2 linked regions of the Homo sapiens genome follow. The protein of the gene in region 1 interacts with the protein of each later gene in a pairwise test. Each region holds a gene or a part of one and is shown on either strand. Other genes may lie near its edges. The genes, in order: ENOPH1 and TMEM132D.

Evidence for each region.
Region 2: the proteins of ENOPH1 (region 1) and TMEM132D interact in a two-hybrid assay, tested with the Homo sapiens proteins (one large-scale study listed by BioGRID).

Annotation. Positions count from the first base shown.
Region 1 is NC_000004.12:82,457,863-82,461,685, forward strand, and holds the end of ENOPH1 (enolase-phosphatase E1), read left to right. Parts: intron 1-2,118; coding exon 2,119-2,258; 3' UTR 2,259-3,315; downstream 3,316-3,823. UniProt on the Homo sapiens protein: Bifunctional enzyme that catalyzes the enolization of 2,3-diketo-5-methylthiopentyl-1-phosphate (DK-MTP-1-P) into the intermediate 2-hydroxy-3-keto-5-methylthiopentenyl-1-phosphate (HK-MTPenyl-1-P), which is then dephosphorylated to form the acireductone 1,2-dihydroxy-3-keto-5-methylthiopentene (DHK-MTPene).
Region 2 is NC_000012.12:129,701,365-129,705,187, reverse strand, and holds part of TMEM132D (transmembrane protein 132D precursor), read left to right. Parts: intron 1-3,823. UniProt on the Homo sapiens protein: Regulate neuronals morphology via inhibition of the WAVE regulatory complex (WCR), a complex that controls F-actin cytoskeletal dynamics.

The sequences.
Region 1 (3,823 bases):
TTTTTGTATTTGGGATCACATAGTACATCTATAATTTCAGATCTTTCTCTTCTCATTTAAGCCATTTCCTCAGTTGCAATTGTAGAAATTATTCCTAATTTTGGAGAATAGAAATAATCCCTAAATTGGCTTCAAAATGAAATTAGCTCCCTTTGATTCTCTGTAAGGAGGTTTTATTCCTGCCCTTCATCTTCTGCTGGCCCCATACACACTTAGGCCAGAACTTGGGTCATCGGCAGCTGGGATGAGGCAGGGAGCTGTCTGCCTGCTTGCTCTTTTCTCTCTGGTCCTGTTTTGGTACCACATGCCCAGACTTCCACTGCTGAGGCAGAATGAAAAACTAAGTTAATATCCCAAATAATGGCTGGGCGCGGTAACTCACACCTATAATCCTAGCACTTTGGGAGGCCAAGGTGGGTGGATCATTTGAGGTCAGGAATTCAAGACCAGCCTGGCCAACATGGTGAAACCTTGTGTCTACTAAAATACAAATATTAGCCAGGCAGTAGTGGTACACGCCTGTAATCCTGGCTACTCGGCTGGGGGCTGAGGCAGGAGAATTGCTTGAGCCTGGGAGGCGGAGGTTGGGATGAGCCGAGATCATGCCACTGCACTCCAGCCTGAGCGACAGAGAGAGACCCTTCTGAAAAAACACAATAAAATAAAAAATAAAATCCCAAATAATACCCAAGTATGAAAAAGTGTCTCAGCATTACAACAGTAGAGCAAATAGATGCTTAGGGATAAAACTTGCCCTGCAGTGAATTAGATAAAAAGCCTGAATATGGAACGGCCACTTGTAGTGTCAAGTCCCATGTGGATTGTGATGGCTTAACTTGGTCATATTCCCGGGTTGCCAGTCACGATGAAAACTTTGCTCAGGGCAGTCAGGCTAGGAAGTAGGGGTGAGTGGAAGATAGCTGCCTTTCTCCAATGGCATCTGCAGAGGTGGTCTGAAGAAGACATTCCCACACAGAGAGGGGAGTCTTGAGTACTGTTTGCTCTGGGAAAGTGACAGGCCCTTTCACAGGCAGAACAGAAAGCAGGCACTTGAGGAGGTGGGTGGGTGGAAGAAACAGCTCAGCCCCAGTGTGTCTCCTGGGAACTTAACTCTCTCAGCACGACTGCCCTTCAGTTAATCTGTTCAGGTGCTGTGACTCTTCTCCAAAGGCTGAGAAACTAATGGTGATTACTCTTACACCAAATCTAAATTCCACGGGATTTATATATATATATTCCAGATTTCTCACCAGTTTTGTTCTATCTGTCCTAGTAAGCGCCATCTCTCTTATCACAGGCCTGTATCCCATTTCCCACTCTAACTTGCTCCATTCTAGGCTGGGAGTATGACATGTTTAGGGTCTGGAGGTAAGAGCAGATATCTTGGGCTGATTAAACCATAGGATTCCATTTGTCCCATTATCTTCTTTGTGTTTTTATTTTTTTGATACAGGGTCTCACTCTGTCACCCAGGCTGGAGTGCAGTAGTGCGATCTCGGCTTGCTGCAGCCTTGACCTCCTGGGCTTAAGCAATCCTCCCACCTCAGCACTCTTGAGTAGCTGGGACTACAGGCACACGCCACCACGCCCGGCTAATTTTTGTATTGTTTTGTAGAGATAGAGTTTCACCATGTTGCCCAGGCTGGTCTCGAACTCTTGGACTCAAGTCTGGCGTTCAAGTGAACTCCTGGGTCCACCGTGCCCAGCCCCATATCATTTTAATTCGTGTTACCAACAGCTTGTCCTTTGGGAAACAGCTCAGTTCTCGGTATGGGCTGATGGGAGGAAGTGGAGGAAAGGTGTAGGACAGAACATGGCTCCATCCTTCTGCATTCATAAGTACTTAATAAAGCTCAGAAGTGTAGGATACACTGCCATTCTCTTCTGTCAAGTACAGTTACGTATTTTTTAAAATTTTATCATGGAAAAATTAAAACATACATAAAAGAGATAATAATATAGTCAACCCCAGGGTGCCCATCTTTTAGCTTCAACAGTCATCAAATCAGGGCCAAATTCATTTCTTCCATCCCCACATCCCCCTGCTGACTTTGCTGCAAATCTCAGACATCATTTTTTGGTGTTTCTGACACACACACATCCTTTGATTTTTCACAGAGGCCAGTGCTGCTGAGGAAGCAGATGTGCACGTAGCTGTGGTGGTGAGACCAGGCAACGCAGGATTAACAGATGATGAGAAGACTTACTACAGCCTCATCACATCCTTCAGTGAACTATACCTGCCTTCCTCAACCTAGAGAAGGGTTGTTAAGGCAGACCGCCCTGTTCCCCAGAGTTGTCCCTGTAGTGTCTAGGTTTATTCTAATGGTAAAAGTAACTTACTTAAAAAACATATGTACACATATGTATGCAAGTATGTATATATGTGTATGCTCAGATTAACTTCCATAGGTACATAAGTGAAAGAAGTCTCAGTTCAGTGAACACAAAACTTATTTAAAGATGCTTTATATGTAGAAATTGTTTCAAATCATACTCTAACCCTTAGTGAGGGCAAAGTGTAGTTGGTAGAAGAAATTGCTAAATACCTATCTAATGTGCTATGTTTATCAAATCGTGTACTAAAATGGAAAGCTAGTTTTGAGAAATTATTCAGAAGCCTTGTTATTTTAAAAATGAAATATTTCAAAGACTGAATATTTTCAAAGAAAATGAATAATTCATTGCCCTTGTGATTTAGAAGATTATAACAGCTGTATTTCATATTTGCCTCCTTATATATATCAAAGACCAAGGTATTTCCTTCTGCTTCAAAAGAACAAAATTGGGAAAGAAAACTCACTTGAGTCTTGATCAAACAAGTGTCTTTTACTTAAGAAGAAACTTGGTAATCATTGTGGCACCCACAGCAAGCAGTTGCCTTACCAGTGAAAAAGGTGCACTGAGGTAACATCTAAAACAGAGATGTGGTTCTTAATGTTTAACAGAACAGTTCTAATCCTGCCACGTGTTATCATTATAGATTTTATAGTTGCCTTTCTAACTACTTAGCACAGTTTGAGAATACGTTAATTGCTATTTACTATTTAAAAAGTTTTACTGAAATCAGTCCATAACATTAAGATGAGCCCTAATATGTAAGATTTTCCTCTGGAATGGATGTGAGAAATGTAAATTTTATAACAGCAGTATTTATCCTGGTTTAATTCTAATACGATGTCATGTTAATTTCATGTTGTGATTAATAAAAGCATTTTTTCTTCACTCAGTTTTATATAGGTTCCTGAACTCTATCCACATGCCGCCATAGCAAAAGAGAAACTGAAAAACAAGAATATTTAGCTCTTATCTTAATCGTGTATCATGTGTGTGTTTTAATGGAGTGCCGGTGGCAATTCATGGTTATTATTTGAGTTATGTATACATATAAGGTTACTATTCCATTTGGATAGTAAGCATTCAGGATATGAGTGGAGTTCCTTATATTTTTGAGAATCTTAACTTTGAGGTCTCTAAGGTAATGCTTGAAGGAGGGAGTTACTCTCCTAACTAATCAAGAAAAACTCACGAATCCTGGAGGAGCAATTTTAGAAATGCTTTGAATAAGGAAAAAGAAGTCTTAGAACTATGAGAGGACAGGGGATATAAAAGATTTTATGTTGATAATTTTGATCTAGTAGCCAATTAAGAAATCTAGGGTCTATGAAAATATATGAATAAAAAAGAAAGGAAATGAGTTTAGGTACATCTTAGAAATGGGAATAATTTGTAAATGATGATAAAACCACAAATAGTAATAAAAGGATGAACTTAATACCTTTTTTGGAAAGCTCATAGGCAGATGGCAGAAAGGGGTATATCT
Region 2 (3,823 bases), on another chromosome or scaffold:
TAGGAGCTCCATCATCTGAATATTGAACATCTAATGTGCATCTCACATGGTTACAGCCTCTTACTGATCATTTCCATTGCTTCGCCTTTTCTATTTAGCTGTAGGGAAAGCTTCAAAAGCTCCCATTCTCATATGATAAATTCAATTTTCTGCATTTTTCAAATCTGTGTTATTGCATCTGAAACCATTTTAAATTCCTTACTTTTAATACTTCAGGATCTTCTTCCATCTCAGTCTTATTTCCTTACAAAACAACAAAGGCTCTGCTTTTCTTGATGATTGTGAGCTCCGAAGTCATTTTGTATAAAAGGTACTTCAATATTCTATGGTAAATACTCTTCAAAGGTATGTTATTCCTCTACTTCTTGAATGTCTTTCTGAATTTCCTTCGTTACTCTGCAGCTTTTATTGGTAGGTCCTGTTCTCCTTCTGTTTTTGTTTATTTACATATCCTTCACCGAGGGCAGCCTTGTTTACATTGGCGTTGCATGTTACCATATGACCCGGCATCCCTGGGGGGACGGTGAGGATGCTCTGGGGTGTTGACATGCCCAGCAGGGGAGATCCCTTGCTCCAAGGTGCCTTCTGTGAGTTGGGTGCAGGGGCCACATGGGCACTGGTTTCCTGTAAGTGATTTTAGGTTTGGACTCATTCCAGGAGCAGTGTGGCTATGTCAAACCTCCTGCCCCCATCACTGTCTCTGTTAGGGAAGAACAGCATCAGCAAGACGCCTTGATGTTTTAGGGCTTTCTGTGCAGCGCGGCGCCCCCTATGCTTGGGTCTCTGATTCAGCTGATGGCAAAGCTGGTTGCCTCCCAGCATTGGGAATATTGTCAGGTGCGGGAGCACCCACATGGCCCATGGCCTTTGCTCTTGCAGATATCAGGGTAGATTTGTCAGCTGCCTAGATATCAGATATCTTACAGCTATCTACTCAGCGGACAACTATTTTCTTTCTATGACAATACCATGCTGAGGATTGCCAGATTTGGGAAATAAAACACAAGATGTCTAGCTACATTTGAATTTCAGAAAAACACCATTTAAAAATATTTATTGTTAATTATAAGCATGCCCTATGGAATATTTCTGTTTATTGGAAATCAAAACATAATTAGGTGTTTGTGTTTTATCTGGCTGCCCTAATCATTCTGTTTTCTATGTGAGGTATTTGAGTCCCTTGTGAGTCCCAGTAATTCTTGCAGTCTATGGCATGCAGATTGTACCTAATTTTCAGCATGGATGTAGATTTTTTTTTTTTTTGCCTATTACCGTATTCGATTAGTTATTGCTTTTGAGTCCACATAGGGGAAAACTGAGAGTCTTGTGCTCAAATTGCCTTCCTCCCATATTTTTTAAAAAAGTATTATTCAGGGAAAAATGATCCTTTCAAAAATGTTAAAATTAATACAAAATCTCTCCCAGACCACTGAGTTGCTTCAAGATGCGAACATGTCACTCTCCTTCAAGTAAGAATTACAGCCACGGAACCCAATCAAAAAGTAATTTTTGTCCTTAGCGAATTATTAGCTGAGATTTACTGTGTATAGCTTCTTTGTAATTTAACACTTTGCTAATTTTTATGTTAAATAAAAATCATGTCCTTTAGTGACAGTAACCATTCCTGTAAGGATGAGAGGATAATGAGTTTTACTTCGTTCATTCTGTGCATCGTGGACCATAATTGGCATTATTTTTGTAGTATTAGTTAAAAAAAAAAAAGAAAGGAAGTGACACTAGCTTTAGGTCAAAATGGAGCAATTTTAAGCAATAAACATTTAGGTCAGATACCAGGCAAAATGACTAATAGACCATTTGTGGAATAAAGCTAAGAAGTTACTTCCCTTCAAATGATGTTCACAGTGACCCCGATTGCCTTATTGCTTTCCTGAATAAAATCATAGGACCCGATGTCATTGCCCTTGGAAGGTGTAATTAGCTGCACAGTTAGGTTTCATGTCCTCAAGTAGTCGGGGTCAGATGTTCAACAGGGAAGTTCACGGAGCCTTGGTGTCTGGCATTAACATTTAAGCATCTGTAATTTGGTTGTCTGGCTTTGGCTGTTTCTAGCACGAATGGCAAAAGAGTGCTGAGGCAGCTCAAGGTACTTGTTCTGAGTGGTGCCAAGATGTGTTTTTAACAATAGGGGACACTGTATCAACTGATGTAGGTCTTATAGGAGTCTCATTACATGGAGAGGCCCATCTTCCTTAGTCCCGTATCACCAGGATTACACGGAGCTCTTAATGGGATAAAAGGATCCAGGATTCCGATTACAGTGATGGAAGCCAAGAGGACAGTGAATAACATCCTAGTGTAAAAACAGAATCTGCTCTTTGTGACATAAAAAGCATAATCCACATGTTGATTTATTCATTCACGTGTTTATCAAATATTTATTGAGTACCTGACATTTACCAGGCACTCTCTTAAAGACTGTGAATACAGCAGAGAAAAAAGCCTTGCGTGTCATTTCTGCTCCCTGGCATATCACACACTGGAGTGCATAGAGAATCACAGCAAAGCATAACGTGTTTTGATGCAGGAAGCTGGGGATGCTACAGAAAAACCCAGATGGAGACCATAACCCAGAATCATACAGTCAAGGAAAGGATCCCAGCAAGGTGACTTTGATAATGCAGCCAGAGAGGTCACAGAACTGTGGCTAGGCAAATGGGGAGAGGGTGCCCAGAGAGGGGCTGAAATATTCTTTGTCTCTTCTTTGTTTTTACTATAACTCACATGTGAAGATACAAGTTTAGAGATAATATCAATCAGGAGTTATTTCTATAAAGTTAAAACATGTAATCTTTTTAAGGCATGGAGTCCCTTTTTATATCTATGATATTTTGATTTTTGAAAACAATCCATATTTATGACGTTGAACCCTAGGAAATTGTCATTTGGGTGGATGCAGACTGCTCACTTATAAGCAGTCTCAAATGGTTCAGTCCAAGACAAGCCTTAGTTGTTTATATGGAAGCTCAGCCTGCTCTGAGTTTGGTCATGCCGATGATTGGAGAGATTTTTTCATCCAGGGCTTTCTGTAAACTCGGGTTGAATACATGCGTTGAACTTCTTGTCTAGAAGTTAAACTGGATGCAGCCTGACACCCTGTGTTATCACAGCTGGGCTGAGGCTACAGTGCTGCAGTCAGCCCCCTCATGCTACCAATGGGTCCATGGGAAACAACGAGGGTCAGTGACCTGCTCATCGTCTCACAAAGCCGGGAGCAGGACCCCTGCCTCCGAGCTCTTGGCTCTCTCAGCTGCTGGCGGATGACTGCCAAGAAGGGTCCTGACTCGGGAAGGCATCAGGCTTCCAGATGTGTGTTTGCGTGGGCCTTTGAGAAAGGTGGAGCCATGAGTGTCCGAGTAATCAAAGATAATTACATGGTGACTGACGAGAAGGGCTTCAGCATAACTTGTGGAGCTTTGCCTAGAAAGTCAGTGTTCCCAGCCAATAGTTTACATTTCTAAAACTCCTTAAATTGGTTCTTTGGATTATGCAATTGCTCTGCCTGCATTTTTCTTACAGAATGTAAGGCAACTTGTGAAAATAACATTTTGGATTTTTCTCCCCCTGAGGGAGAGATACGTTCAGTGCGGAAAAATGAACAATGGATTTTGTTCGTTGGTGACGGCGTAGTGTCCACAGGATGTGGCTGGCATGGAAGCGAGGTGCTGCCCTTCCCGTGCTTCTTAGGTTCAGGGTCCAGTGTTTCATAGATGACTTGGAGCATTGCTTTGTACGCCCGGCCCTGACACATTGGTGTCGTGGTCACCTCATCTCATCTATTTCTAGAGGGCCCCTCCCAATATAT